Linked DNA regions of Homo sapiens. The protein of the gene in region 5 purifies or fractionates together with the protein of the main gene of each other region. This does not show direct contact. Each region holds a gene or a part of one and is shown on either strand. Other genes may lie near its edges. The genes, in order: KSR1, NHSL1, ERGIC2, CDCA2, PPP2R5B, ARHGEF2 and MTCL3.

Region 1 (4,132 bases), on a different chromosome or scaffold from region 5:
AGATGTACAACAGTGAAAATCACCCATAATGCCACCTCTCAGAGTTAATTCCAGTGCACATTTTGTTGTATATTCTTCCTGCATTTGCATATAAATGTACATGTGTATATTTGTGGCACATACCATGTGCATTGCCTTGTAAATGTCTTCTGTCTGTATCAGCACATATACATATGCATCAGCACTATTAGTGGCTGCATTGTGTGGTCATACCACAAATTCATCTAACCGGTTTCCCTGTGTGGGCCATTCAGGCTGTTTCCAAGTCTTGCTTTTATAAATGGTGCTGCAACGAGTATCTTCCTACAAGTGAGATTTGCTGGGTCAAAGTATATGAATACATTTAATATCTGTCCTCGTCTTTAATATCTTTATGGCATCATAACTCCCCCTCTCCTAAGCAGGAATGGCAGCCTTCATACATTTATCCATTTGCCACTGCATCTGTAATCACACTGACGGCCAAGAGTTTAAAAGGAGGCTGGGCCTGGGTGCGGTGGCTCATGCCTGTAATCCCAGCACCTTGAGAGGCTGAGGCTGGTGGATAGCTTGAGTCTAGGAGTTCGAAACCAGCCTGGGCAACATGGTAAACCCCGTCTCTACAAGAAATAGAAAATTAGCCATGCATGGTGGCACGCTCCTGTAGTTCTAGCTACTCAGGAGGCTGAGGTGGAGGTTGCAGTGACCTGAGATTGCATCATTGCACTCCAGCCTGGATGACAGAGAAAAAAAAAAAAAAAAAGAGGCTGGACATGGTCCTCTGGCTGAGATTCTGGGATAAGTGTCAGGAACTATGGCTTCTAGTTTTGTGGTTGCTTGTGTCTGAGGTTCTGGGCTATGTGTCAGGCATTGTGGCTTCTAGTTTTTGTGGTTACCTGCAGCAAAGGGGGGCCCCCTGGGCTGACCAATTAGAAGAAGGCCTTTTCCTTGCTCCAAGATAGCGGAGGGAGGGGCTGGATTTCAGGTCTCCCTGTCCAGAGACTGATCAGCTTTGGTAGTACATAATCATATGGTGAGGTCTTGATCACTTGAGGCTCATGAAAGTCACTTTAACTGCATTCTTGGTTGCATCCCTAACTACAAATACTGATCACAGTGCTATTTGGGGTGCCTGGCTTTGGGGATGATTTAGTAGAGTTGTGGGTTCCTAGGGCTACAAAGGGTCTTGGAATTTCCATGTGGTCCAGCCCTCTCATCTTGCAGGTGAGGAAACTGAAGGCCTGAGGGAGAACTGACTTGCCAGGAACCCCTGTTAAGCAGAATTAACAAAGGGTGGTTATTAAAGGAGCACTGAGTTGGGAGTCAGACCTGGAGGCCCACACCCTTGATTAAGACATTATACCACCTTGAGTCTGGCCTGTTGACTGAGGGTGAGCCACTCCATCCTCCTCTGATTGTGGGGTGTTGACCTCAAGGGGTTTCCTGCAGGAAGAAGCAAATGGGTTTGCTTTCCTAGCTCTGTCCCAGTGCCTTAGGGGCCCTGAGGACTGGAGAGATTCTTGGAGCGCCATCTGGGGTATGTCACGGGTGGACCTTTTTTGAAGGTCAGTCTGCTCAGTGGGCTGGCTCAGCCCGAATGAACTGTCTTGAATCTTTGGAGTTGTCTGTTTACTTTTAAGGGCTTCTCATCCTTGCACCAAAAGATCCCCTGGAAATTAGGTGGGAAATCCTTAACTTTTATGGGGCCTTGTGTTTGTCTTAAAAGTTCATGCGCATGGCCAGGTGTGGTGGCTCACACCTGTAATCCTATCCTGGATCCCTTGAGTCAAGGAGTTTGAGACCAATGTGAACAACATAGTGAGACCCTGTCTCTACAAAAAATAAAATATTAGCCAGGGGTGGTTGTGCACACCTGTTGTCCCAGCTACTACAGTGGCTGAGGCTGGAGGAGCACTTGAGCCTGCACTGAGCTGTGATCTCACCAGTGTACTCCAGCCTGGGCCACAGAGCAAGAACTTGACTCAAAAAAAAAAAAAACCAGCAAGAAAAATCCTTGCAGATTTTGCATTCTGTGCCACTATCCATTGGTTTTCATGTCAAGATAATGTAAAAATTCTTTACAATTGCTTCCAGAAGGAGTAGCCTTTTAATCTAGTGCACAGGTGTCCAGTCTTTTGGCTTCTCAGGGCCACATTGGAAGAAGAATGCTCCTGGGCCACAGATAAAATACACTAATGCTAACAATAGCTGATGAGCTTAAAAAAAAAAAAAAAGGTTTGTGCATAATTTTCATGATACCCACCACCACAGATAGGCGGAAAAGTCCTTGTAGTCAAAGGGTTGGACACGGCTGATCTAGTGTCTTGTCCGTTTTGGCTTTCTCCCTGATTCCAGAATGCAGGTAGAGATGTAGAGACGTGCTCTCAGGACAGCTGTTGAGATAAAAAAATTTGTTGTCATTTATTCCCAGGCACAGCTGTTTGTCATTTGCATTGAAAAAGTCTCCATTCAAACTGCTGTCACATATAAAATCTATTTATGTAAGTCTGTATTTTTCTGTTGTCTTGGCCTTGGTGGGCAGTAGTGTGTTTTAACTGAGCAAACTGTCTTTCCAAATAATGAAGCTGAAGTCAGCCTACCTGCTTGCCATTTTTCTTCCCCTTCCATTTTTCTAATCTCCGGATAATTGTAAGAATGAATTAAGATTTGTGTTTAAGGCCGGGCACAGTGTCTTAGGCCTATAATCCCAGCACTTTGGGAGGCAGAGACGGACGTATCGCTTGAGCTCAGGAGTTCCAGACCAGCCTGGGCGACATACTGAGACTCTGTCTTGTATAATTAAATTAAAATTTAAAAAAAGAAGAGATAAAGACCCGTGTTTAAAATTTTTAAAAAAGGGGGGAAAGTGTAATGCAAAATGTGGACTATGCCAGCTATGATTGGGAAAAATAATTTTTCATACAGCATTATCTATAGATTTGTATTAGCAGCATACTGGTCATAAGCGTTTTGCTTTCCGCAAATATGATGTGGTAAGCTACTTTAAAGTGTGGTGGGGCTTTCTTCCGCATGGCTCCTTGAGGGGTTGAGTCCCAATTTATCCAATTAATTTGGGTTTAGTTTTGATATGGATAAGGGAGACCAGCTTCATTCATGGTGCACACACAGTTTTGCCAATAAGGAAAAAAAAAAGCCACCTGAATGTTCCTACTCATTAGGAGCTATCTGGAGAGCTCCTACCCCACTCCCACCAAGGCCTGGGCCCTTAAAAAGGCTCAGTGCAGCCTTTCTGTATCTCACTGTATTCTGCAAGATGCTCCTGTGAAGAAAGTTGTGCTGCATCAGCCATCTCCCTCCTGAAGATCCCTGCGGATGAGGATTTGTGTTTTAAAGGTTCTGAGAAGTACTGCAACAACAGTTCTCAAACTTATTTGTCCAGGGGATCTTTTCTTCCACTGAACGTAGTTGGGGAGACATGGCCTTAAGCCTTGAGCAGAGAAAGAGACAAGAAACTGTTGGCTCACTTACAACCAAGTGTTGTGTTTAAGTTTTAGGTTTTTATGAAACTGAGGTGCTGTTTGAGTTTCCAAATAAAATTGGGTGGTTGAAGAGAGGCTGGTATCCCTGTAGACTTATCCAGCCATGAGAAATTGCCTTTTTTACAAAGGGAAATAGGGTGTCTCCTGGGCATCACATTAGCACTTAAATACATGTATCACTGAATCCTTCTAACAAGAAGAGGAAACTTGCCGAGAGAGGTGTGCCCGCCTGCCTGCCTGCCTGCCTGGAGTTTGCACTTCCTGCCTCCTCCTGGCCCTGGGTGCATTTAGTTGGTGTTAAGGGCATGGTCTGCTCAGTGTCTACCAGGAACCTCATGATCCCCCTGATGGGCAGAAAACAATCCAAGAGAAATGCAGATGGCTGTGGGTGCATTTGAGCTTGGGCTGCAGGGGGTTTGGGGGAGAGGGCTGGGCTACAGATGAAGAATGCTTTTCAAAATAAAAAAGGAAATGCTGGCTCTGAATGGAAAGGAAAGGAAGCAGCTTCCTGTTTCTCGTGGTGGCTTTTTGAAAGGAGGAGCTCTTTCTGGCCTCTTGGCCAACGGAGGCCTGGGCCGGCTGGGGCCACTCTAGGTGCGCTGGAGTCGAGGCTCCCACACTGCTGCCTGAGGTTTCAGAAAGAGCGCTGGTTC
Region 2 (4,132 bases), on a different chromosome or scaffold from region 5:
CTCAACAGGACGGAGCAGGTGAGTCTGGCTTCCTGGCTTCTCTCTCCTGTGCCCTCTGCCCATATGCAGCTGAACCAGATAGGGTTGTTGAATGCTCACACGTGGAAAGAACCCAGGTAGATCAGATTCCTGTTAAAGCTAGCAGTATGTAGGCTTCCTGTGTTAAAACACAGATTAAGTTACCAACTTTGCATTTTGTTATTATTTTTAAAATCTAGACCTAAAGGCATGGCAGAAAATAGGGGGATGGAGATGATCTGCAGCAGGCTGGGTATTAAATAGCAATGGGTAACACCTCCCTTCCGAAGAGCCGCGCAAAGAAACGTTGCAACAAAATTTAAGAGAGATGCCATGGGCGTTCCATACTTTAACAAAGAATGAGCTCTGGCTCTCAGGCTAGTGTCATTTCCTCCCTTCTTTGTAAACTATCAAACTACAGACCCACGGCATCTCCCTGTGGTTCTCACATTGTCGGGAATGGCAGGGAAGCAGCATATTTAGAAGCTTGGCTGAGGACTGAAATTCCAGTCACTTGTGCGTCTTGTATGCCTGCCTGCTCTTCTGTAGCTGGGGTGCCGGAGACCAACGCAGCCGGTTCATCCTCAGAGGCCTGTGACTTCCTCAAGGAAGACGGGAATGATGAGGTAATGACCCCCAGTCGACCCAGGACCACAGAAGACCTTTTTGCAGCTATTCACAGGTATTTCAAACTCCTTCCTCTGACTTTAATCTACTGTGTAATTCCTTCTTTCCAAGCAGCACCTCAATTTACTTTTCTTCCTTGAGGTTTCTTCTGTCACCCAATCATAACTCCTTAACTTTACTGTTGATTTTTTAGTGGGTTTCTACAGTTTTATTTCCTCTGGCTCCAATTTCTGTTTTACTTTGTCTCACTGATTTTTATGACATTGGGGACAGTGGCTCAATGTGATACGTTCTGGTAGGCGCTGCTCTTCCTGGCAAGGAGCGCAGTGTGGCAGTCATAAGACAGAGTATATTAGCAAGAGTCGGATTAAAGTGACTGACAGTGCAGTCAGGAGGAGGAATGCTATGTTCTGTGGACTTAGGATGCACAGACTAGCTCCATGGGACTCTCTTCCTAAAGATGTTTTAGTTTATTCTAATTTTTTTCATTTTACAGAAAAACCACAGTTATACAGAGCAATTTCTTTGGCTGCTTAAGTGTTTCTATAAAAGAGTACGGCCCTTTAAGCGGGAGCAAAAGAATGACTTATGCTTGTTAATATACCACTAGTGCCATCTACTGGCATCAGAAATCGTTGGGTTTAAAAACAAACAAAAAGGGTAAAATTTTCAAAGTAATGGCCTGAACTGTTACACTTTTTATATGTGGTCACCTTTAAGAGTAAATATGATTTAGCACTGAAGTTTTACTTACTGCATCACTTTTCTGATTGGAAACAGCTGACTACTCCCACACAGTGTCATCGTAAAAGCTGATGACTGTATATGTGCAACTACGTTAAGCCGTAATGCTGTATAAACCTTTTGCTTCCTTCTAGACTTCTCTACCACGGTATTTCCAGGTAACTCTAATGAATGTCCTTATGCTGCCAAGGCCTTATTTTGCCCTGAATGAAGATCCTTTCTTTTTTTTTAACCTCCTGAAACAAAGCATCCTGTAGAATCATTTGATTCTGTGTGTGAATGATCTTATGTCAGCACTGCTTTCCCAATTCTTGGACTCTCCCTGAAAAGACTATTGCATAAGATGAAAAACATAGTGCTGTACCTACCTGAAACTCTTCATGCAACACATTAACATCTAACTTGGTGTGGGGGGAACGAAGCCGGTGAATTAATGTTCTTGTCAAGAATTACGCTCTTTACGTCGCTCCTCTAGTGTTGGTATAATAGATCCTAAAGACTGCCCCTTTTAACATGGACTGGTTTCTTCAGTCTCATTAGAAGTGAAAAGGTAGCTGGTTGTCCAATTATTTCTCAAAACAGAGAAATGATAAATGATGCATCCTTTGAAACTTCAGTGGCAATTCTAGAAGTTCCCATAGATGTTTCTAACTCTTAACCACGCTAGACACATAAGAAGCACTCAATAAATATTTCCTGAATTAAATGAAACCAACTGGTATTTAACCATTAGAAGATTCTTCCAAGACTCAGAGTATTTCATTTAGTATGGAATGCACTGGGTTGCTAAATATACAGGCATATCTGTCTATTTATAATAGCCATCCACAGAGAAGATTTGCGTAGCCTGGTTGTTCTGTGTACTCGATACTTGGTTCCAGTGAGGAAACCCAACTGTTGTGGGTCCAAATTACTGCATATTTTTTCCCAAAAATATGCCAAAGGCCTCTTCTATATTTTGGCAACCTTCTTAAGGCATCGAAAAATGTGTTGTTTCTCTTACTAGGACGTTACATCGACTGCAGATGTAGAAATCGGTCAGTTGGTGTTACTCAGTGCACGTATGAGAGAAGTCAAAGCCAAATAGGCCTTAGGAATGGATTGCAGAGAGAGAGTGAGGACATATGCTAATTTCTGTTGTAGCGTTGAGAATAAATTAGCAGACATAGTAAAAATCCATCTACTGTCTGTGCTTTTTTAGGGCTTTATTTTTATGTCCTTCAGCGCTTAAGCTCATAATTTAAAATAAAGAATATCTAAGTTGAAACACAGCTTCCAAATTTTATAATGCAAATTAATTCGCTTCAGATTTAAAGCCAGATGGAAAATGTAGAACACCAGTTGAGGTGTGAAGTTTTTATATTTATTGAAGTAATTAGTTTTAAAATCAGTGTTAACTGTTTAAGCACTTTTTATAGCTCTCTTCATTAAAAATACATATTCGTGTGTGTGTGTTGTGTATGTATATGCAAAGAATTTGTACATTTAGATTTAATTATTTTAGTGGGCACCTGCTCTTGAGAGATGACAGTGCTTTCATAAAATCCCATCTTTCTTCCTTTTTTTTTTTTTCTTTTTGATACAGAGTCTCACTCACTCTGTCACCCAGGCTGGAGTGCAGTGGCGCGATCTTGGATCACTGCAACCTCTGCCTCCCAGATTCGAATGATTCTCCTGCCTCAGCATCCCAAGTAGCTGGGATTATAGGCGTGTGCCACCATGCCCGGCTAATTTTCGTATTTGTAGTACAGACATGGTTTCACCATGTTGCTCAGGCTGGTCACCCCATCTTCTTTCTTAATTCTATGTCTACAATTAAAGGTCATAGTTTTACTCAAGTTTAGTTGTGACTTGTTTAATGGATCTCAGCATACTCTCACCGTTTAAAATCTAAATTACAAATTAAGTCACCAGCCAATACCTAAAAGAATGAAATGAGCAGAGCTGCTTTGGGGAGTAGACCATGTAAGTGGTGAGGCCATGTGCTATAAGCTCAAGTCCTAGTTGTCATACTAACAAGTTACCTTTTCTCAGTTACCTTTTCTGAAACCCAAAGTGGTTGGACTAGACCATTTCTAACGTCTTTTCTAGCTCTACAGTTTCGAGATGTTAGGATGTCTGTAGTTTTGTCAGCCGGTCCTAACTCTTATCAGGGCAGACTGCTCTTGTTAACTACTGAGTGGGACCATGAAACCTGTATGGTAGGCCATGTTCTGCAGTCCCAAAGAGTCTGGTGCCCTGTCCACTCTGGCCACCCTTCAGACCCTGTATTGGGTCCTTACCATTTCCCAGCCTCTGCTTTAGTGGCATCTTTTTGACCAGAAGAATGGAGATGACGCCAGGAACACCAAGCCCAGGGCAGCCAGCATGGGCCCATGCTGCCCTCTGTCTTGCTGTGTAAGCCACGTAAAAACTAAATCCATTTTCTATGTGACATTCAAAGGTTTGTTAAGCACCTGCTCTATGCCTGACCAATTATGGCTATCACTGCATTCATGAGTACTGACAAACTGTGACCTATATACTGTTATTCCCCTTTTGGTGATAGGAAAAATACACAGTCAGAAATGTTAACTTGTCCAAGGTGACAGAACAAGGAAGCTTTAGCAGTGGGAGTTATGTAGCTAGCTTCTTTATTTCACTTAATCTTCACAAACCTGTGAGGTTGGTATCTTATAAGTGAGGAGGCATGGCATGCATGGGTAATTTGTCCCAGGTCACACAGCGAGAGGTGGGAAGAGTC
Region 3 (3,792 bases), on a different chromosome or scaffold from region 5:
CATTATTTGTATTCCTAAAGCTTGCAGTTTAGTTATAGCATGAGGAACATGCCATACATATTTGTAAGCTCTTGAGCTCAGTAGAAAACTTGTATCTAAGGTGACCTTTTTGAGAAAAAAAGAATGATTCTGCTCTTTTGATAGTTTCAAAAGCTAACCACACAAAGAATACAAAATAATTTGTCTCTGAAGAGCTTAGTCTAGTAGGACAGTTCATAAGGAAATGTGGATGTCCTTCTTTTACAGTAGGGCTTCAGGGCTTAATATTGAATGTATGTAAGTAACCAGATGACATGAATTCTGTTTCTCTCTTCCTCCTATTTCTCCCCTTCCTTTTGCCTCCCTTTTAGGAACGTATCATTAACCATGCTGCAGGCAGCCATGGAGTCTCTGGGATATTTATGAAATATGATCTCAGTTCTCTTATGGTGACAGTTACTGAGGAGCACATGCCATTCTGGCAGTTTTTTGTAAGACTCTGTGGTATTGTTGGAGGAATCTTTTCAACAACAGGTTAACAACCATTTCCTTTTTGTCTAATTTCTGAAAGTGTTGCTTATACTTAAGTTGCTTCTTCTCAAAGGGGCAAGAAGTATACAGATTTTCATGTTTCGGTGTTTAAATAGCTTTTGCTTTAATTACAAAACTCCAAAATTATATTGACTAACCAGTAAACATAACTAATTTCATTGTATTCAATGATGTAAGGTAGATTATATAATGGTGAGTTGGAAAGATCCTGGGTGTTAACATCAGATTGAAGTAGAATTGAATGTAAGTTCTGTCATTTACTTGGTGGTAGCTTGGAATAGATCACCTACCTTTTCTGAGGTTTTCTAATCAGTAAAAATAGCAATAATAATACCTAATTTGCAAGTGTGCTATAGGATTAAATATGAAAATGCCTAGAAGGCATTTAAGACATTTTTAACTGTACAGTATGTAAAATCATATGTTATAGTACTTTGAATTATGCAATACATGAAACTAGATTTGTAATCAGTAACATGTTTATGATTTTTGTCCTGAGATCCTGGAATTCGCTAAGATTATTTGTCGAATTGTAATGATGAAAATTGGGAGTTAAGTACAATAGAGAAAAAGGAAACAATTCTATTTTCATCTTCAGTCCTTATTCAGTATTAGATGGAGCTGGGTAGTTTATTATACTTAGAATCATATTTTTAAATGAATGAATAGCTTTTCTTTCGAAATTCTTTGTTAGTGCTTCATTTCAATCTATTTAAATTTGTGTTGTTGACATCATTTATTTTCCAAAATTGTATTGGTGTGGGAAAACCTTGAAAAGATTGTGTTTAGGCCCGGTGCAGTGGCTCATGCCTATAATCCCAACACTTTGGGAGGCCAAGGCTGGCGGATCAACTTGAGGCCAGAAGTTCCAGATCAGCCTGGCCAACATGGCTAAACCCCGTCTCTACTGAAAATATAAAAAATTAGCCGGGCATGGTGGTACATGCCTGTAATCCCAGCTAATTGGGAGGCTGAAGCACAAGAATTGCTTGAGCTGGGAGGTGGAGGTTGCAGTGAGCCAAGATTGCACCACTGCACTCCAGCCTGGGCAACAGAGTGAGACGTCTCAAAAAAAAAAAGATTGTGCTGAGATCGTGAATTATGTGGCCTTGTGACTTTGAAAAGAAATCCATTTGTTTTAAAATCTTTCTTGATTATTTTTAACCATGGAAGTGAATAATGCAAACTGCTTTGTTTTCTTCCGTAATCTATTCCATTATAGTTATTTATTCTTAAATAACAGTTTAGGAAATAATTAAAAGCATAAACTTATTGTTTATTACAGGCATGTTACATGGAATTGGAAAATTTATAGTTGAAATAATTTGCTGTCGTTTCAGACTTGGATCCTATAAACCTGTCAATTCTGTAAGTGGTGTAGTATACATGGTGCTGATCTCTAAATCTTAGAATCATTGTTAAGTCTATGAGCCAGTCATGGTGGCTCACACCTGTAATCCCAAGACTTTGGGAGGCTAAGGCGGGAGGATCGCTTGAGCCCAGGAGTTTGAGACCAGTCAAGGCAACATAGTGAGAGCCCCATTTCTACAAAAGATAGAAAAAATTAGCTAGGCAAGGTGGTGCAAGCCTGTAGTCCCAGCTACTTGGGAGGGCACAGTGGGAGGATCACTTGAGCCCAGGAAGTTGAGGTTGTAGTGAGCTATGATCGTACGTACCACTGCACTCCAGCCTGGGTGACAGAGCAGACCCTGCCTCAAAAAAGATAGAGATAGAGAGATAGAGAAATAGGGGGAGAGAGAGAGAGAAATAGTAGCTTTTGGTTACTAGAAAGGATTGCCCAAAATAAAACCTTGTGTTTAGAGGAAAGAGTATAAGGAATAAAACTAATTCTTTGGTCTTTTTTTCCCTCCTTTTCTCCTTAGGTTCCTTTTGAGGATGGCCACACAGACAACCACTTACCTCTTTTAGAAAATAATACACATTAACACCTCCCGATTGAAGGAGAAAAACTTTTTGCCTGAGACATAAAACCTTTTTTTAATAATAAAATATTGTGCAATATATTCAAAGAAAAGAAAACACAAATAAGCAGAAAACATACTTATTTTAAAAAAGAAAAAAAAGGATAAAAAAACCCAAACTGAAATTCTATATACGTTGTGTCTGTTACAAATGTCGTAGAAGAAATCATGCAGCTAAACGATGAAGAAGCCCAACTGGAGTGTTGCTTTGAAGATGACGCCTTCTTATATTTTCATAGCAAATGGGTGGTATCAAAATCAGACATTGCTTCTTGCTGATAAAAAGCCTGAAGGAAATAAGTGAAACTACATCTATGGGAAAAAAAAAAACATTGAGAAGTGCAAATGTTCGCATCCTTTTGTTTTTAAAAGATATGATGTCAGAATAAAATGTGGAAAACATACGGAAAACTAGTCTAGACTTTAAAGAATTGTGATCAGGTCACATTGTTAATAAAAAAAAAAAACGGGCTAGTCCCTATGTTATAGCCATATTAATGTTAAGCCATATTGACAAGACCAGTTATCCAATAATTTGGTCTTAAAAAGTAACTACTTTTCTTTGAACTCTGGTTATTGACTTATCTAACTGTTGAAGATAGAGTCTTAGAAGACTAAGGTAAATTCTCACAGGGGCAGATATGTAGGTGTTATGTAACTAGGGTGTCATTCACAAATGGTATAGTAGAATCTTATACACGGAAAAGAAAGCACATTTTTTTAAAAAAGATGCCAAGTTTTTTAATCTAATCATTATATTATTGGTGTATTTTGGGCAACATAGGGTGAGTTATAAAAAGATCCGCTACTGATAGTGAAAATTACCGGTTTGTAAAACATTAAGAGAAAAAATAGGATATTTTATACATGTGGTGAGTGGAGAACAGGGTAACTTTAAATGAAAGTGTAAGGCAAATTGTAAGCACCACAAGATATATCAGATTTGAGAGGTGCCATGTTAAACATTGTCCATTAAACTATAAAACTGTATTATGAAGTATTTGCATTCAGGGTGTCCTGAATATGATTGATTCTGTATTAGATTGTGTTCTAACTTTCTTACTATTTAAGGATTGGTTCTAAATCTTCACATTATAAAAGATTAAAAACAGTGAGAGGGAGCTATCACACAGGTACTATTAAAAGCTGTATTTGGAATATGTGTACCAATATCAGTTTTCCTTTTGTAGTACTGAATGGCAGTAGAAGAATCAGCAGCCAATCCTCAAAGTTTAAATCATTTAAGGAAATGGGGAAACAAAATTCCAGGTAAATAACA
Region 4 (4,811 bases), on a different chromosome or scaffold from region 5:
GATATTATTAAAAAAAAAAAAAAAAAAAAAGAACCGCTGGAAAACTCAGTGTTAAAAAATCAGTGACCTACTGCCACACTTCAGGTTAGTAAACTAATTTTATCAGTGAGTTTTTGGTTTTCAAAACTTTTAATGGAAAACCATGAATTAAGTCCCAAACTGCCTGTGACTAATTAGAATAATCTGAGAGCCCAGTCTTTAACTGAGCTATATTTTCACCAAAAATAAAAAATAAAAAATAAAAAATTCCTCCCCCCAACACACAACAAAATATAAAGGAATCTTGTTTAAAGGAATGAATAGTTTCACATCAGAGTTATTTCTAAATTATATATTCATTTATAATGATGAATTTATAAGATTGTGGTTACTGAAATAATTTTCTGAAATTTCTTGTTTAGGATTTAAACTATTAAAATAAAAATCTCATTTGAGACAGATAAAACAAGTCATCAAGTCTTCTCTTAAATTTAACCAAAAGGAAAACAAGTTTTATAATTTCAACTTTTGTTAGTTAAAATTTATAGCCAGGTTTTTTTTTTCTAAAGAAAAATACATATCTTACCCGCTTTAAGTCTTCAAGTTTATATTTCCTTCAATTTTCATAAAGTTCCATTAATTCTATCAATTTATCTTTTGTGGGGAAAAAAAAGAAAAACAAACAAACAAAAAAACAAACCTCTTATCCAGATAAAATCAGCCAATTCTAAAAGATGCTTCTAACAACAGAGTCTAAGACTTCAGTGGTAAATATGTACTTAAAAATATATATGCTAAAAAAAAGTCTAAAAATTGAGAGATGTCTTCTTGTGCCTAAAAATAACCTTTTTAGCAAAGTAGTAATAAAGCATTTACTCTCTGGCGGAAGAAGAATATATTTAATAGAATGTTTTCTATCTGAATGATGAAGAAACTTATTTATTTCTACATAAAAGTAGGTTCAACTCAAATGAGTTTATTTATTAGGAACTTTTGAAACACTGAGGTTGAACAGAGAATGGGAACTAGACAGATCATTTCAGCATAGATGGTTACTTTCCCTCTTGCCACAGACTCTGCAGGAAATGTCAATTACTGCTTTCTTTCTCCATTATGTTCAATCCTTTCCAAGGCAGTCAGAGAGCTCTCTCCCTTCCCATTAAGAGAGGATCTTCTCCGGTAGCCTTTGAACTGGGAAGTGGCTTTAGTATTTGCAAGTGTAGATATACAAAAGCTCTTCCTCCTCTTACCAGGTTCATCGGAAGAACCAGCAGCAGGGCCCTGGCTGTTTTCTGGATCTGAGACGGGAGGTGCCATCTGCGGTTTTTGTCTGGAGGACACAGTTTCTTTTATGGGAGACATACTTTCAAATCCACTGCTGTCAAATGTACATATTGTTCTTCTTTTGGCTTTTTGGGAAGTGGAAGGAAGTGGAAGTGAAATCCATACAAGACCTTCGTTTTCTAAATCCTTCTGTAGCCTCGTGCTACGTCGCACTTTGGTTTCACTATTTCTCCTCTGAAAGGTTTGCTCAATGGCATCAGACAAATCTTTAAACAGTTCAGAATTTTCTAAACTAATTTCTACAGAGCTGCCCACACTGGAGGATGGTGTGTGATTTCCATTTTTTTCCAAATGTAAACTTCGACCATCAGAATAACACATGGAACGTCTTCTATCTTTCCTGTCTCTGCAACTCACAACACTGCTACTTTCCATGGGTTTTCTTCCCAAATCCTCACTCTGGCTTTTAGATTCTTTCGTATTTTCAATTAAGACATCTCCTAAACAATGACAGTCTTTTTGTGAATTAGGCATTAAACGATTGCATTGCAGTTTTCCTTCTGCAGCTCCTAAGAAGTCATCCTTTCTTTCACACTTTATGTTTAAATCTGGTGAAATTTTAAAGAACTGACAAAGGTTTTCTGCATTTTGACCACCAGCAGAAAATTCTTGACCCTGCTGCAGGGTCAGAGCAGGTTTGGGACTATCTGATGCCACACGTTCTTCAGTTACAGAAGCACAAGAAACAGGACTGTCAGTTCCAGCTTTTGGTTCATTTTCACTTTCTGACTTATTTTTTGCTTTTGGAATATTTTTATTTTCATTAATGTTCATTATATTTGTATTTGGATCTTCATCAGAAGTAGCATTGCCAAGCGATGAGGAACTTTTTATATAAGAGCAGAATTCAGAGACATCATATTTATCATAGCCTTGATGCATATGCAAATCTGGGTCATGACGCAAAAGATCCTTTCTTTTCACTGGATTTTTAGGAGTCTTCACTTCTTCCAGTTTGCCATTTGAACTGAAATAACCTATGGGCATGTAAATAGGTTTAAATCTAATTAAAAAGTAACAATGGGAATGAACTTTACATTTATTAAATAATCAGGTGACCTGTTTTGTTTTTGTGTTTTAAGCATTCACAAGACCCACAAATGTTACACTGTGCTTGCCCTTCTGTCATCCTCCTCCTCCTCTTTTAGTTCTCCAACGATCCACAGGTTAAGAAAATAGGTATTCAACGCATGAATTAATAAAGCATATAACCTCAAACCATGAAAATGAGAACAGCATCTGAAACAGCTTCCTCCATTCTAACACCCTTCCCGTGCTACAAGGTCCATGAGTATGAGGCAGTGACATTTCCCATTTCCCTGAAAATGAATGACTGCAAATGGGCAACATTATGCTTCTGAAACTTTCTACCAATGTATCCTCCGAAACAGGGGAGGGAAAATTTGGAATTCTGGGGTATTTGAGGACTTATGAGCTAAAACAGCATGCCTGAAGACACTCAGGTCTCATGCCCTTTGTTAAAAATTACTATAAAGTGCACTGTACTCCGAAACAGAACCAGGTTTGTTTCAATATTATAAAAATCGACCCTTAATTCCTCAGCCTTTGACTAAATATCCTCCAGGAAGACACGTGTGGGTAGGCTTTCATGTATTTCTGGCACATCAGAGGTGGAAAAACCATCATCAGATTGGTAAGTAACACAGCCCACATGAGTTCAGGCTTTATGAGTTCTAAATCTTAGAACTAACTATTAGATGCAATCTTTTTTGATACCTCAGATGATATTTTTAAGTGGCCAGTCAAATGAATAAAGTGTTTTAAATAAAATAAAAACTAAAAAAAGTATAAAACATAAGTTGAGCCAAAAGTCTAAAAAAACAATGTTTCCATTTAAAAATATATCCATGATTAAGGTACTTAAAATCATGTCACTTAAAGCTAGAGATTAAACAGGTCAGTGCCCACTCAGTGCCAACCAATGTTAGTTGGGCTCTTTAGACAGCTTTAAAAATTGATATTTATGGCCGAGCACAGTGGCTCACGCCTGTAATCCCAGCACTTTGGGAGGCCGAGGCAGGTGGATTACCTGAGGTCAGGAGTTTGAGACCAGCCTGGCCAACATGGTGAAACCCCGTCTCTACTAAAAATACAAAATTAGCCAGGCATGGTGGCGCGTGCTTGTAGTCCCAGCTACCTGGGAGGCTGAAGCAGGAGAATTGCTGGTACCCAGGAGGTGGAGGTTGCAGTGAGCCAAGATTGAGCCACTGCACTCCAGGCTGGGCGACAGAGTGAGACTCCATCTCAAAAAACAAACAAACAAACAAAAAGATATGTATTTCGCATAAAATCCAACATACTAGAGAAGGAAGGTAAAGAAGATATAGGGAGAGAGGAAAGGAAAAAGAGAAAGAGATAGAGAAGATAAAGGAAGCAAGGAGCTGAATTGCTTTAAACCCATGTAGCAGGTGATACCACTGGTTACAGACAAAAAATGCTTTAGGTATTTTAAAAAATAAATTCTCTAATACGATACAACATGGAAAATTTTACTACAGTCACTGTTTAATCATCTTTTGAAAAACTGTTAAGAACTAGAGATGTAATGAAAATAAGACTTAGTTTCCACTCTCAAGGAGACTGAAGTTTTAGGGAGCAGGGGAACATAGAAAATAGATCATCATAAAACTAGGTGATGGAAGTATGTTGCAGAGTATTCCTGGAAAAACAGACAATACAGCAAAATCTTGGAAGATAAGCAACATTAGGTCAGATTAAAGGTAGAGTGGTGGATGCCCTGTCACAACACAGCCTGTGAGAAAGCATGGCAGGAGAAGAGTGTGAGCCAGGGCGTATGCGACAGAGGGGTGGCTGTTTATTTAAACTCCTGTGCTATCCTAATGTTAAGCAGGACGCAGAAGCCAGGAGTCAATGGTGGCATGTACCTCATTCATCCTCAAGTCTATTATTAATCTTGTATGGTATACCGCAAATAGGAGGTAGGCTATAAATATCTGATGATTGACAAAGGTAGCCATTTGAAAAATGATTCTATACAAATCAACACACCAAATGGACACACATTATCATTTTCAGGCAAGACAGCGTGGCTCTTGCCTGTAATATCAGTAGTTTGGGAGGCTGAGGCAGGAAGATTGTTTGAGCCCAAGAGTTTGAGACCAGCCTGGGCAACTCAGGGACACCCATCTCTACTAAAAATTAAAAAAAAAAAAAAAAATCATTATTATTTTCAGCAAGATTCAGTCCATTTAAAATTTGGGCATTAGAAACCAGAAACAATTCCAGTCCATTTTTTATCTACCCCATATATCAACTGACTTGATAATAAAATAACTTTCAAGGTAATCAAGCTCAATTTATATGTATTATTTTTAGAAAACAGTAGTGCCAACTCTAACAAAACATCATTGTCCTTAACTCATATAAGGTATACATATTACTGAATCATCACCTCATTGACTTTTTTTGTTCCTTTTTTTTTTAAGAGATGGGGTCTTGCTATGTTG
Region 5 (4,591 bases):
CTGAGATCTGAGTGGCAGAGTTGGGGTTCATTAAGGAAAAGCCCTTGAAGACAGAAGCCAGGGAGTCTCTCATTCAAAGCTTTTTTTTTTTTTTTCTTTCCCAAGACAGGGTCTCGCTCTGTTGCCCAAGCTGGAGCGCAGTGGTACAATCTCGACTCACTGCAACCTCAACCTCCCAGGCAGGCTCAAGCGATCCTCCCACCTCAGCCTTCTGAGTAGCTGGACTACAGTAGCACACCACTATGCCCGGCAAATTTTTAAATTTTTGTAGTGATGCGGTCTCACTGTCAGGCTGGTCTTGAACCCCTTGCCTCAAGTGATCCTCTCGCCTTGGCCCAAAGTGCTGGGATTACAGATGAGAGCTGCTGCTCCCGGCCCTCATTCAAAGTTCTAATGGGTTGATTTCAGCATCTGCCCCAGCAAGCAGTTCATTCCTTGGGCAATCATCACCTGAACGCCTAGTTCGTGCAAGCCCTGGGCCAGGGGCTGGGAACCCAGGGGTGAATGGGACACATCCCTGCCTTCTAGGCAGGTGCAATCCAGTGGGGAGAACAAGGCTAGAAGCTGTGAGGTCTACGGGCAGGAAAAGGGAGATTTCCAGCTTGGTTATTGACAGCGGCTTCTTGGCAGAGGCGGCACCTGAGCCAGGCCATGGATGGTATGGGGTGTGGGGCAGGGCACTCCAGGTCTCAGGCAAGCATAAGCAAAGGTGTGGACGTGGGGCAGGCCCGGAGGCATTCAGTGGGTGTTGGGCAGCAGCAGGTCGGGGGGAAGGAAGACGTGGACTGAGGCCAAGCCGATGAGTACAGGGTTATTCTCCACGCAGGGGTCCTGCGGACAGGAAACGGGGCTCACACGCCCTCTCGGCCGGCCCTCGGAGCCTGGGTGGCAGGTGCTCACCATGCGGATGATGTCTGGGTAGACGGGCTCGATGAGGACACCCCGGGTGCTCCCCACACACTCCACCAGCTCGTTGAGGGCTGCCCGCTTCACCTCCTTCCCCTTGAGGTCGGCCACACAGTCCAAGAAGTCAAACATCACCCCACACTGGGCCAGCTTCCGGCTCAGCAGCTCGTGCAGCTCGGAAGCCGGCACATCTGGGGAGGAGAGGGCATCCTGGGCCTGGGCCCCAGCTCCCCCAGCTGCCCCAGCTGTGGGTGGGGCAGACCCTCCTAATCTCCACGGCTGCCTCTGCTGCCCCCAGGCCCCATGCTCTTGTGCCATCTCCTGCTCCTTGCAGACAGCAAACAACTACTGTCCCTTCCTCCATTCCTGGGGGTTGAGGGTTGCTTTTCTTCCTCCTAATCCAGGCTCAGAGAGTATGATGGCCTGAGTTTTAAAGCAAGATCACAAATCCTGGATGCAGCAGCTTTCCACAGGTGCCCCAAACAGCTGCTGCCTCCCTCTCAGGTGGCACCCTGTTCTAAGGGCCAGAAATGGGGAGGGGTTCAGGGCCAAGGATCTCTACGGTGTCCTCAGGCTTGGCCAGTCTGGCCCTATGGCCCAAGGCTGGGGAAGGGACCTATGTGGTGATCCCAGGGAACCCTGCCAAGCGCCTGCTCCAGGGATCTGGCAGCTGGCTGGGCTGATAGTGGCCCCCTGGAACCCAGGCTATGGGCCCCACCCTTGGCCTTGGTCTGCCCCTAGGGTGGCACCACCTTCGGATGTCCCACCTCTAAGGATGACAGGCCAGTCAGGCCATGTGTCAGCAGAGAGGGCTGGAGGGCTGGGGTCAGTTCTGATGGCGGAGAACCTAGCCTGGAGGGGTATCCAAACTCTCTCTCTTGGCAGCTGCCCGCTGCCTCCCACCCCTCCCCATGGCCCTGCTGGTCCCCTCGGGGGTTCGGTTCCCCCAGTGGCCAGCAGCCAGCTCACCTTTGAGCAGGGGCAGCGGTGTGAGCTCTTGCTGGTTGCTCTGATAGCGGAACTGAGAGGAGCTGTGGGAGCGGCGGGGCCGGGCTCTGCGGAGGGAACGGCGGGAGAAGCCGTCCACCTTGTCGGGTGGGGGCACAGGCGACAGCCCGGGGGAGGAGGGGCTAGTGGGGGTGCTTGCAGGGGGCAGCTTCGTCTCCATGGCGGTCAGGCGGCAGGGCAAGCTTTCAGAGCCCCGGGGGTTCTCTCTGGGCCTGGGAGGTGCTGGGTGAGACTGGACAGACTAACTTGGTCCCATCCTGTCCGGCCTTTGGGGGGGGGGCACAACCACAGTCCTGGGCCCCCCCCCAGGGCCTCCTGCAACTGCCCAGTCCTGGGGGGCAGACAGGGTAGAAAGGAGGATGGCTCAGGCCTCAGATCCTTCCTGGGGGTCCCGAAGAGTCCAGTTAGGGTTCCCACCCTGGCTCTTTTGAAAACGAAGTCAGGCAGAAAGATCAGCAAGAAAGAGACAGAGAAAGCCCATCAGTTCCTCAGGAGAGCCGGGAGGCTGCGTGGAGTGCCCAGGTCTTTTCCCTCCTATCCTTGCCCAGACCCTAAAATAGGGGTGCAGCCCCCTCCCATCCTGGACATGTCCCTCCCTTCTCTCAGACAGAAAGCCTCCAAAACAACCCCTCCCAGAATAGGGCCTATCCCCCAAGCCAGCCCCGACTCAGAATGGAGCCCCGATCGTCATCCCTGCCCCTTTCAGAATGGAACGCATCGCTGCTCCACTAATCCCGGCCACTTGGGACAACCCCAAGACTGGAGGTGCTGTCCCGATGCCACCCCGCTCCTAGAACCTGGCACCCTCCCCCACCTCAGCTCCTCCTTCCTGGCCCCCCAAACCTCATGGGGTGGGGGACACTCACTTCTCGAAAACCTAGACTTCGGTCGCCAACCCCCGGGGGCTGCCCGTAGGGAGGGCGACGGCCGTTCAGGGCCCCTTCGCAGCGGTTCCGCTCGGGGCGCTGGGGCTGGGCGGCGGCGCTCCTGGGTTCTCTCCCGGGCTCCGGGGGGGCGGCTAGAGCATGCCCCCAACTCAGCCCCGGGCCGGGACTGGGCGCTCGGCGGGCTCTGCACCGGCCGTCGCAGCGCGCGGATCTCCGCTGAAGTCCTGGGACTCCGACCCAACGCGGTGCAGCGCAACGGGAGCCCCGGCTCGGCTCCGTGCGCACCGGCACCCGCCGCCCAGCTGCTCAGGATGACATCAAGTCACCTCCCCCCACCCGGCCCGCACCTCCCCGCGGGCTGAAAGGGGGGGCTGCGTCAGGAAGGCCCGGGGCCGCTGGGAGATGTAGTCCCCGCGCCGTTTAAAGTGAGCTGCCAGACCAAAGGGGACACCCCTGAGGGCAGACTCGGGGGTGAAGGCCGAAGCTTTTGAAGCCAGAGAGCAGAGTGGGATGGGCTCTAGCCGGGGGCGGGAAGCCTGGATTCTAGAAGGGAGGCTGCATAGGGAAAGAGGAGGGCTTAGGAGTTTGCACCAGGAAAGTAGGGTGATGCCAGGACACTGACAGGAAGGAGTCGCAGCAAGCTACGCTAGGCCCACAGATTTGGCCTGGGCCTTCTATGCCCTAGGCCATCCCCCCAGGAACCTCACCCTTACCCCAGAACCACCAGACACTTCAGAAACCCCTTGGAAACCAGCACTGGACTAGTTAAAAGTCTGCGATGAGTCAGTGCTTGCTGGGAGGGGTGTGGTGCACCCAAGCCTGCTGGGAGATGCAGTCCATCCTCAGGCCTGCAGTCCCCCTCCCGTCCCTTGCTGTCTATGGTGACATCATGGTCTCCAGTTTAAAGGGCCAGTCTTGGAGTGGCAAAGCCCGAGAGGAGGAGGTTTTCTCCTTGAGCTGCCACCTCATCCCAGGCAGCCTGGCCTTCCCGGATGGACCTTTCAGCCCCCCTGGACCCTAAGATGTGCTGGGTGGGTCAGTGTCTCTTGCTCAAAATCCTGCTGCTGGCATGCAAGGCACAGGTGGGAGTCCAGGAGTTTGGCATGCTAACCAAAAGTTCCCAGCCTGCAGTCCTGGGCCCCCGTCCTAGGATCCTGGACCCCAACACTCTTTATAGCCCTGAACTCCATCCCGCTACACTGCTGTGAAATCTCCACCCTGAAATGTTGCCTGGATGAGCAGCTGGTCCATGGTGAGCAGTAGGAAAGGGTGATGAGACCAGATAATGAGGTCGGGGAGGGGACTAGGGGCCTTTTCAGAGTCTGCCCCATCTTGCTTTGGGTCTTGGTGACCACTCAGTGCTCCAGCGGAACCACCCAGCCATCCTCCCGGTTGCAGAGGAAGCCTGGGTGCGCAAGAGGTGTCCGCCTACCAAAGCAACAGAAGGCAGAGGCCTGCACCGAGGGCCGCAGTTCACCAGGCTGGGGTCCAGGACTCCGGCACTGGAGACCCAGCAAGTGCTCTGCTTGCTCAGGAACCTCCGGCAGGCCTTGCCCATCCGGCCCTTGGTGTCCCTGTCTGTCCAATGGGAATCCATGATCTCCCTCCTTGCCCACCTCCCAGGCTCTTCTGCATCCCTGAACAAGCTGAGGGAGGGCAGGCCCACAGAGCCTCTGCAGCCAGGCAAGGACCCCAAGGCCTAGAGAGGAGAAGCGCCTTGCCCAGTGTCACACAGCGTGTCATCAAAAGTTGGGGCCAGGGGCCAGGCTTCCACCTCCCAGCTGGCTACA
Region 6 (4,132 bases), on a different chromosome or scaffold from region 5:
GGATGTGCTGCTGCTGTGGCTGCTGCCCGCTGCTGGCCCACCTAGAGCAGGGGTCACTTCGAGAGAGGGTGAGTGTTGGGAGGTGGAGGAGGCAGGGCCCAGAGTACCAGGGCTGTCTGTGGAGCATTGATGCCAGAGAGAGGAAGGGCCACTAGAGACCCTGTTCTCTGGCTGCCCCAGTCTTCTCCCTCCCTTTGCCACTCCATCTGAGCTGGTCAGACAGATGAGTGTTTGTGGATGCCACAGGGGGAGGGTGGAGGGCAAAGGACAGAGGTCAGGTGTGGAAGAGAGTACTCGTAGCAGCACTGGGGCAGAGCTGCAGCACTGCCCATTCTGGAGTGACCCTGGTCCAGCCATGTTGTTTTTTTTAATACTATTTTCAGCTTGCTTGCTTTTACTTATGTGTGTATATATATATATGTATATATTTTTTTTTTTTATAGAGATGGGTCTCGCTGTGTTGCTCAGGTTGTTCTCAAACTCCTGGCCTCAAGCGATCCTCCCACCTCAGCCCCGCAAAGTGCTGGGATTACAGGTGTGAGCCACCTCACCGGCCTCTTGCTTTTAATTCAAATGTAATACATGCTCAAACTTTTGGTTTGAGTTATATAGAAGGCTGGGAGGGCAGGAGAGGAGGAGAAAAGGGAGAGTATATGGCAGTGGGAAGAGATTTTTGGACTTGGTGTTTGAGGTCCTGTGAGGTTATTATTCAAAGGTGAATTTGAACTTCTTTTTTTTTTTTTGAGACATAGTCTCACTCTGTGGCCCAGGCTGGAGTGCAGTGGCCCAATCTCAACCCACCACAACCTCCAACCTCCCCGGTTCAAGCAATTCTCCTGCCTCAGCCTCCCAAGTAGCTGGGATTACAGGTGCCTGCCACTACGCCCAGCTAATTTTTTGTATTTTTAGTAGAGATGGGGTTTCACCATGTTGGTCAGGCTGGTCTCGAACTCCTGACCTCAGGTAATCCACCCGCCTCGACCTCCCAAAGTGCTGGGATTGCAGGTGTGAGCCACTGCACCCAGCCTGAATTTGAACTTCTAAAGAGGTATAATTTGGTGCAAGATAGGTGGAGGTTAGACCAAAGGGAGCATTTTCTAGTGGTCCGGGTAGGTAGGTGCCAGAATAGAAAAAAGGAGGCCAGAACATTTTAGAGGTTTGAGTTAGAGGCTAGAGGCAGCTCAGCTTCCTGAATAAGCCTAGGTAGAGGAGCAGTTGGCCTGCGTGAGGAGGAGGGGAGGAGAGGCTGTGGGCGGGAGAGGAGAACAGTGGCGGAGAAGCAAGGCTGAGAAAGGGAAGGCAGAGCGGGAGGAGCCTAGGAGGGAGACCCTGAGAAGAGAAGGGAGGACATAGAGAGAGCAGGAGACAGGAGGAGGATGCGAAAAATGGATGATTGGGGATGGGGAGGATGCATGAGGGGAGAAGGGATTGACCCCAAGACCTCTGGGCTCTGGACATCATCAGGCAAACCTGGAGCTTGGGAAGAGAGGCAGGAAAGAGAAGGATCTTGGGCCCAGGCACTGCAGCCCCATGCCCTCTGTCCCTGCACTGTTGACTCAGCCCCTCCACACTTCCCCTTTCTTTCTACCATTTTCTGCCCCAAGCACCAGGCCCGTGCATCTCTTCCCCTCCTCCACCTCTCAGCTGCTGGCGTGGCCTCGTGGCCTCGGCTGAGTCAGTACTGGTCTCCTAGAGTCCGGGCTGAGTGCTTCCCGCTGAACTGTAATCCTCTGTCCCCAGTCCAGGTCCTCTGACTTGGGGCTTCTACCCTCAGCCATCTGGATCCTGATTTTTGATTTCTGAGAGCCTGGGAAACCTTGGAGGGAGTGGTCTTCTCAGCTTCTAGTCCTGCTCCAAGAGCGGAGGGAAAATCCAGAGATCAGAGTCACAACTAAGGAAGGTCCTAGAATAGTGGGAAGAGTGATATCCCCCTCTTCTCACCTTCTCAGGCTTTTTGGGAATCACAGGGGCTTGAAGAGGGACAGATTGGAGGTCAGGGAGAATGACTTGACTTGCAGAGGCAGGGGCACTGGGGGAAATGGGAGACAGCAGAGATGGAAAATGCGGCTCAGAGGCTCCGAGGAAGGTGTGCGCCATCTGCGGAGATCAACACTGAAGGATGGAGGGTAGATGTCAGAAAGGACTTCCTAGGATGGGAGAGACCAGTTGGGTAAGGAGCAATAGAGGAAACTCTCCTAGGTTTTAACTCTGGAAAGTAGTATGAGAGGGATAAAAGTTAGACTGCAGGAGAGATTTTCCGCTGGAAGCAACCAAGATGGCTGGCTGAGCTTCCTTACTTAAAGATCCCAGAGTGGAAGAGTGACCCAAAGGCAGCTAGCTGCCTTTGCCTCAAGGTTAGTAGGGGACATGCTGCCTCCCAGACAGGCCCTGTGTGCCGTGGCTGAGGGTTGGTGAAAAGAGTTAGAGGTCTGGGATCCTGACCCCTGGGTTGGGGGTGGCAGGGGAGGCATTCTGCCCCCTTCAGCCAATCTAATAAGGGGATCTCCTGCCCCCCCCACTGTGACTGCCACAGAGACAGCAGATCCAACACTGGTTGTCATGGTTATAAGAGGAGCTAACTCCCATAGATTGGAAAGCGCTGGTGAGCTGGCACCCTCCGCTTCGCCTGCTCTCCCCTCCTCTCTGCGCATCTTCCCCCTAGCACAGAGAAGAGAGTACAGCAGCTCGGGGGTGAGCAGAGCTAGGGCTGGGAAGGTGGAGTGAGGACGCAGAGACCTAGAGCCAGGGAGATGAGTGGCAACAGGAGGCAGCCCAGCCGTAGGGGCCAGGTAGGTCAGGGACCCAGAACCCATCCGGGCTGGCTGCCCCAGAGCCTGGCCTGGTCACTCCCGGACAGCTGCCTCTGACACCCAGTTGCAGGCTCTGCTTTAGGAACTGGTGTCTTTCCAGCATCCTCAGGCTGGCATTTTTTCCTTGCCTCTGCCCCCAGCCTGTCTCTCTGGACTCCAGGCACCCTGGCATTTTCCAGCCTCACTTCCTCTCCCTCTCATCCCTTCCACAGACCCGGGAAAAGGAGAAGATGAAGGAAGCCAAGGATGCCCGCTATACCAATGGGCACCTCTTCACCACCATTTCAGTTTCAGGCATGACCATGTGCTATGCCTGTAACAAGAGCATCACAGCCAAGGAAGCCCTCATCTGCCCAAGTAAGTTGTTTGGACCCTGAGAGTCACCCAGACTCGGTGCCCACTGACCCTGATCTTTTCATCTGTTTTTTCTGCCTGGATCCATGAGGGTCACTCTTCTCTCTGATCCCCAGCTGGGCCCAAATGCCAGGGCCAGTTGCTTGATCCCTTGCTCCCTGTCCTCACTCTGAGGGGTGGTGGCTGTTGGAATATGGCATAAGCCGGACTATCTGGGAATGTGGGGGAGGGGAGGCTGTGCTGGCTCCTCTTGCAGCTGTCATCCACCAGGCACCCCCCTTGCTCCCCGAACAGCTGCTAAGGGTTAGGGGAACTGATTGGAGAAGGAGCAGGAATGTTGTATGTGTGGAGGGGGTGGGGTGGGGGGTGACAGAGGAACTGGGTGGAAAGCTGCCAGCCTTGCAGCTGGCTCTGCCTGTCTTCCTGCGCAGAGCTGGGCATTCAGGACTTCACAGTCCCCTTGCCCCTTTCTTTCTATTGACTATGGGTGGAGCCTGAAATCTCTGCTGTTTCAAGCAGAAGATGTGATTAGGACCCTTCATCTCAAATTTCTAGTGAGAAAGAGGGAATGTAGCAGGGATGTGTGTGTTGAGGGGCAGGGGTTAGAATTCCTGCCCTTCATCCACATCTGAGTGTAGTCCTGTCTTTAGGGAGTATAAGCCAGGAATTCTTTCCTTCCCCAGTACACAGAGGGCTCCTGCTGCCCCCTCTCCCTCAATTCCTCCTGAAGTTATGGCAGAGATGCCTCTGATTAGAGCAGGATTGAAGGTATTGTGACCTGCTACTGAATAGCGGACAAAAGCTCTAGCCTGTAAATCCCTATGAAACTTGGGGAAGGAACCCCCAGAAAGGACCAGTGATGGGCAACCCGCTCGGGTCCCCTTCTACGCTGTGGGAGCTTTGTCATTTTGCTCTTCACAATAAAGCTTGCTACCGCTCAAAAAAAAAAAAAAAAAGAAAGAAAAGAA
Region 7 (4,682 bases), on a different chromosome or scaffold from region 5:
TTATTTTACTTTTTAAAGTTACTATTTGCACGAAATAAATGATACCGCTTTCGGAAAAAAAATCAAAACATAGATGCCTGAGCAGAGTAAAAATTCTTAGAGAAGCAGGACTATGCATATTCTGTGTCTTTAGACTGTGTTTACAGTATCAATATTTTATTGGTAAAGATTGAGCTGAAAAATATTTGTATCTACTTTATCCATTTTGATTGGATGAGACATGTGCATCTTGATATTTCTTGAGGATATTACAGCTCAAGTTTGGGTACATAATAAGAAATTGCCTAATATAAATTCAAACCAACTTGTGATTACATTTTCACTTGCTTTTTTTTTTTTCCTTTATTTTTGGTATGCTAGTCGAGGTGTGGGCTTTTTATTATAAATGTCACAGATGTCACTTTTCCTGTTCCCAAAGGTATTTGAAAGAAAATAAGGAAATTATCTCAGTTTTCACCAGTATGCTTGAGTGTCCCCAGCACAGGGACAATTTCTTGATTCAGCTTTGCATCCCAGTACCTTGGACAGTGCCAGGCTCAAAATTGGCTTTTAATACCTATTTTGGAACATGAATGATTTTATCGTGATATCATATTTGTTTTATGTGTCTCTAAAGATAAGAATAACCAGAGCTTGAGCATGTTTTTATTTTGCTGTAATAATTGCTTTTATGCAAACTACTCCTAAATTGTTTTTATTTCACTTTTAATGCAAGATCAACACTTGGAAAATTGAATCTCTTGAGCCAAAATTCATGTTGGCACAAAAAGCTATTATTATTTCAAGATATCTTCTTCCTTTTACTTACAAAATCACCATATAAATGTAAGACAAATTAAATTTTAAAATGCCCTTTCAAAAGCAGTACTTACTTTTATTCTCATACTCAAGCTCACAAAGGAATTCTTAGAGGTAGAAGGGAGGCTCCCATGCCCCCCGCCCACCACTGAAAGAAGAAACTGAAAAGAAAAAGAGAAAATTCCACTTAATTTTTAAAAATATTATTACTGTGAAACAGTATGGGTTAGTGTAAATTGTAAAGACATGTATATTCTGAACTCCTCTTTTTAAATGAATTCCCTTTTAGGCTGATATAATGTATTCTTCCTGGTTTCTGTTATTGTTCGCATGCACTACTATAAAGATTATGGATCCCAGCAATTACTCATTTTCACGGTAGAAACCGGCACTCAGTAGAAAACAGGAAAACGTACTGAAGGCAAACCGTTCTGTAAAGGATCTCTGTGGGCCGATATTTATTTCGGTTTGCACTAAATTAGTCGTGGCTTCGCAAGAACCCTTTGTCTGTGGGACGGTGGGTCCCATCATGGCAACCATTATCTATTCGTGGAAACGACATCTGATGACTCCGCCCGGGCTGGGGGTGGGGAGGGAGCACCGCGTGTAGAGCTCGACTGAGAATTAAAGTGAGTGAACAAAGAGAACTCCCAGCAGCCGCCAGCCAGCTGCATCAGGAGATGTTAGTCACGCCCGGAAGGCTGTTCTAGTCCGCCTCCTTGGAAAAGAAGCTCAAGTAAATAATTGATGGAGAATGACCGAACCCAGGACAAAGCTTTGCAGGAAACCAGTGCATCCGTGTTCGAGCGGTTTTGGGATCCTCTGCCAAGTACGGGATAAGAGAATAGAGCAAGGAGTTTGAGCGCTGCTGCCAATCTTCCATCTCGGGCGTGGCTCTGGCCTTTTTGTCTCTTTATCCCGCCACTCCCCACCCCCGTCCCCCGTCCCCCTCCCCGCCTTCTTCTCTTTCCTCTTGAAAGTAACCTCTCTTTGGTTACTTCTACCCTATCGTCCCTTGCAATCCCGCCTTCTCTCCTGCCCAGTTCGGTGAGGTCAGCTCATGAACATCTCTGCACTTCCTGGGGAGCGTCTGGCCCAGCTTGGTACCTCGCGTGTTAGCCTGCTGAGAGCTGCAGCTCCAGCCCAGCCGCGGACCGCCGGGAAGTCACCCGCTCTGGGGGCAGCTGAATCTTGACGTTACCGCCATTGTTTGGAGAAATCGAGTGGGTGTGGAACTGCGGCGAGCGAGCCCAAAGTCATGCTCAGCCGGAAAGTCGCATACAATAATATGAAGTTGAACTTTCCTCGGCGCAGAAAGGCACAATAATAAACCCTGAGATCCCCGGAATATCAGAAGGAAAGTGCTGTTGATTTGTTCAGCTACTTGGAAACCTCGCCTCTGCTGAGAAGTGAGCAAGTTCTGGATTTCTAAAGGGTTGGGGATGAATGATGGGGTGGGTTAGCAGGCGGATAAAACTTGAGATTAAAAGTGTTGGTCTAAGCCGTGCAGGGGTTGGTTGGGTGATAATTTTCACCGGGAAAGCCTTGAAGAGATGCAGCATCTTGTCACTTTGTGGGAACCACGTGACAGCAGCCGGATACCTTTGATTGTGGAGCCCAGTTACTGGAACACAAGCTTTCGCCTGGGTTAATGCTGTCTGAGGGCTGAGTTTAAACATTGGCTTCTCAGCTCTGGAATTATTCTGCCTGATTAAAAACAAAAATAAGTTTGCATTGGCAATATAAGTTAGTTAGATAGCCCATGTTAGTGCCACCCATGATGATAAACTAGGCCAGACATTCTAGTAGTATCGCGACTGGGAGAGAAGATGTAGAAAACAAGTTGGTGGGCAATTTTCCCCCGATGTCTTCTTTGTTCACCTTTATATTTCAAAGTGAGTTGGAAGGAGATGCCAGAAACAGAAAGGGAGGTGGATTAGGAACCCTTCGGTAATATTTCTTTATAAAATGAGGAATTACTGCATGCTAAGTTGTGATGCTAACAATAGATGTTAACAAGAATAATGCAAGTAAAATAACTGGCAGTAAAGTAATCTGCTCTCTGTATAGAACAAATATTTTTAAAGGAGAAATTTATGCCTAGTCATGCCCCTTTCAGTGCTTTAGACAGAAATAATTTTAAGGAAAAGGCAACTAATTGACTAGCTGCCTGGATCCCTAGGGAGAGGAACCCATGAGGCAGTAACTTGCTATTTTTCAGATTAAAGAAGCTAGTGACGGATTTATCTTGGAAATACACATACTGGAAATTGATCTTACCACCATGAGGGAAGATGCACCAGCCTTCTGGGTTCTGTCTCAGAATTGCTATATAGGAGGAAATGGGCACTTTAAAAAGTACAACTTTTGCCTATGATATGCGATGTAAGAAGATGGCTAAGAATGAAAATATTTTCTATCTAGCAATTACACTTAAAACTAAAGTGATTCATAAGACTACAAAACTGGGTAAGCATAGGAAAATTCATCACCAGAAACTTAGGAAACTGCAGAACTGACCACAACTTTTCCAAATGTATTTTAAAAATTATTTCCCAAAAGGGAAAAAATACGTTTTTGGGTTGCTAATAACTAACCCATATAGACAATTCTTAATGCTATTATTTTCTTGAAACTGAGATTGATTTAAAGGCATTCATTATTTATATTTTCTTTTAGTTCTATTATAAAGGAAGTTGGGTGCATTTTCCCAAAAACAACATTAAGGGTTGGAGCTGCCTGGGGAAAGTGTCATTTATCCGTAGAAAATATTCTCTAGGAACCCTACATCATAACCCTTTTCCTCTAATTGAACTTGGGAATACTAATTAAATGAAAACTTTCTCCAGTAAACTAGGCTTTACATATGGATTTGATGGTAAGGAAAGCCAAAGTTGTAAAAGCAGAGTTGACAACTCTAATATATGGATATCTTTTCTTTCTGAAGCTTCTTTTCCACTTTATCCTCTTTTCTTTTATATCTCCCTTTCCATCAATTCCTGTCTGACTCTGTATCTCACCCTTTCCAAAGCCTGCTACCATGAGAATGTAAGGTTCAGCTGCTTTCAGATCCGTCATTTTGCTGAGGTGGAGTGAGATGGAGACAGCGCCACCCTGGGCAAAATGAGAATTGACAGCCCTCCATCCTATTCCTAAAGACAGCCCTGCATCCTATTCCTAAAGTCAAAGCTTCTATTAAGCGCCATCCAAATGGAGCAATATCACCCTTTGCTCTGCAAAAATTCAGACATGTTGTCTTCTTCTCTCCTTTTGTTTCTGTCCCAGCTTAGGAAGGAAGGTTGGCGGCGGTGAAGAGGGAAGAGGATGATCTAGTAATGGGCTCTTCCAAATCGCATCTGGTAGGTTCATAGCCATGAGTCAGCCACCAATCGGGGGCGCTGCCCCTGCCACAGCAGCAGCTTCTCCCGCCGCTGCAGCCACTGAGGCTCGTCTGCACCCGGAGGGCAGCAGCAGAAAGCAGCAGCGAGCTCAGTCACCCGCTAGACCGAGGGACAGTTCGCTGCGACAGACAATCGCGGCCACCCGGTCCCCAGTGGGGGCCGGCACTAAACTCAATTCTGTTCGGCAGCAGCAGCTGCAGCAGCAGCAACAGCAGGGTAACAAGACCGGGAGCCGCACGGGGCCGCCCGCCAGCATCCGAGGAGGCGGAGGTGGGGCCGAGAAGGCGACGCCCCTGGCGCCCAAAGGGGCCGCTCCGGGAGCTGTCCAGCCTGTGGCTGGTGCTGAAGCGGCCCCCGCCGCGACCCTGGCCGCTTTGGGCGGCAGGAGGCCCGGACCGCCCGAGGAGCCGCCTCGGGAGCTAGAGTCCGTGCCCTCGAAACTCGGGGAACCCCCTCCGCTCGGAGAAGGGGGAGGAGGGGGCG

What was found.
Region 1: the proteins of PPP2R5B (region 5) and KSR1 purify together in Homo sapiens (co-immunoprecipitation; one study listed by IntAct). This does not show direct contact.
Region 2: the proteins of PPP2R5B (region 5) and NHSL1 purify together in Homo sapiens (affinity purification with mass spectrometry; one large-scale study listed by BioGRID and IntAct). This does not show direct contact.
Region 3: the proteins of PPP2R5B (region 5) and ERGIC2 purify together in Homo sapiens (affinity purification with mass spectrometry; one large-scale study listed by BioGRID and IntAct). This does not show direct contact.
Region 4: the proteins of PPP2R5B (region 5) and CDCA2 purify together in Homo sapiens (affinity purification with mass spectrometry; one large-scale study listed by BioGRID and IntAct). This does not show direct contact.
Region 6: the proteins of PPP2R5B (region 5) and ARHGEF2 purify together in Homo sapiens (co-immunoprecipitation; 2 studies listed by BioGRID and IntAct, with this or other methods). This does not show direct contact.
Region 7: the proteins of PPP2R5B (region 5) and MTCL3 purify together in Homo sapiens (affinity purification with mass spectrometry; one large-scale study listed by BioGRID and IntAct). This does not show direct contact.

The regions. Positions count from the first base shown.
Region 1 is NC_000017.11:27,462,743-27,466,874, forward strand, and holds part of KSR1 (kinase suppressor of Ras 1), read left to right. Parts: intron 1-4,132.
Region 2 is NC_000006.12:138,426,279-138,430,410, reverse strand, and holds part of NHSL1 (NHS-like protein 1), read left to right. Parts: coding exon 1-18; intron 19-567; coding exon 568-700; intron 701-4,132.
Region 3 is NC_000012.12:29,339,841-29,343,632, reverse strand, and holds part of ERGIC2 (endoplasmic reticulum-Golgi intermediate compartment protein 2), read left to right. Parts: intron 1-350; coding exon 351-513; intron 514-1,816; coding exon 1,817-1,899; intron 1,900-2,414; coding exon 2,415-2,477; 3' UTR 2,478-3,792. UniProt on the Homo sapiens protein: Possible role in transport between endoplasmic reticulum and Golgi.
Region 4 is NC_000008.11:25,503,999-25,508,809, reverse strand, and holds the end of CDCA2 (cell division cycle-associated protein 2), read right to left. Parts: intron 2,301-4,811; coding exon 1,072-2,300; 3' UTR 899-1,071; downstream 1-898. UniProt on the Homo sapiens protein: Regulator of chromosome structure during mitosis required for condensin-depleted chromosomes to retain their compact architecture through anaphase.
Region 5 is NC_000011.10:64,923,218-64,927,808, reverse strand, and holds the start of PPP2R5B (serine/threonine-protein phosphatase 2A 56 kDa regulatory subunit beta isoform), read right to left. Parts: upstream 3,121-4,591; 5' UTR 2,781-3,120; exon of another isoform or gene 2,339-2,780; 5' UTR 2,075-2,338; coding exon 1,876-2,074; intron 1,098-1,875; coding exon 901-1,097; intron 8-900; coding exon 1-7. UniProt on the Homo sapiens protein: As the regulatory component of the serine/threonine-protein phosphatase 2A (PP2A) holoenzyme, modulates substrate specificity, subcellular localization, and responsiveness to phosphorylation.
Region 6 is NC_000001.11:155,968,191-155,972,322, reverse strand, and holds part of ARHGEF2 (rho guanine nucleotide exchange factor 2), read left to right. Parts: intron 1-3,022; coding exon 3,023-3,167; intron 3,168-4,132. UniProt on the Homo sapiens protein: Activates Rho-GTPases by promoting the exchange of GDP for GTP.
Region 7 is NC_000006.12:127,516,104-127,520,785, reverse strand, and holds the start of MTCL3 (microtubule cross-linking factor 3 precursor), read left to right. Parts: upstream 1-1,450; 5' UTR 1,451-2,207; intron 2,208-4,083; 5' UTR 4,084-4,171; coding exon 4,172-4,682.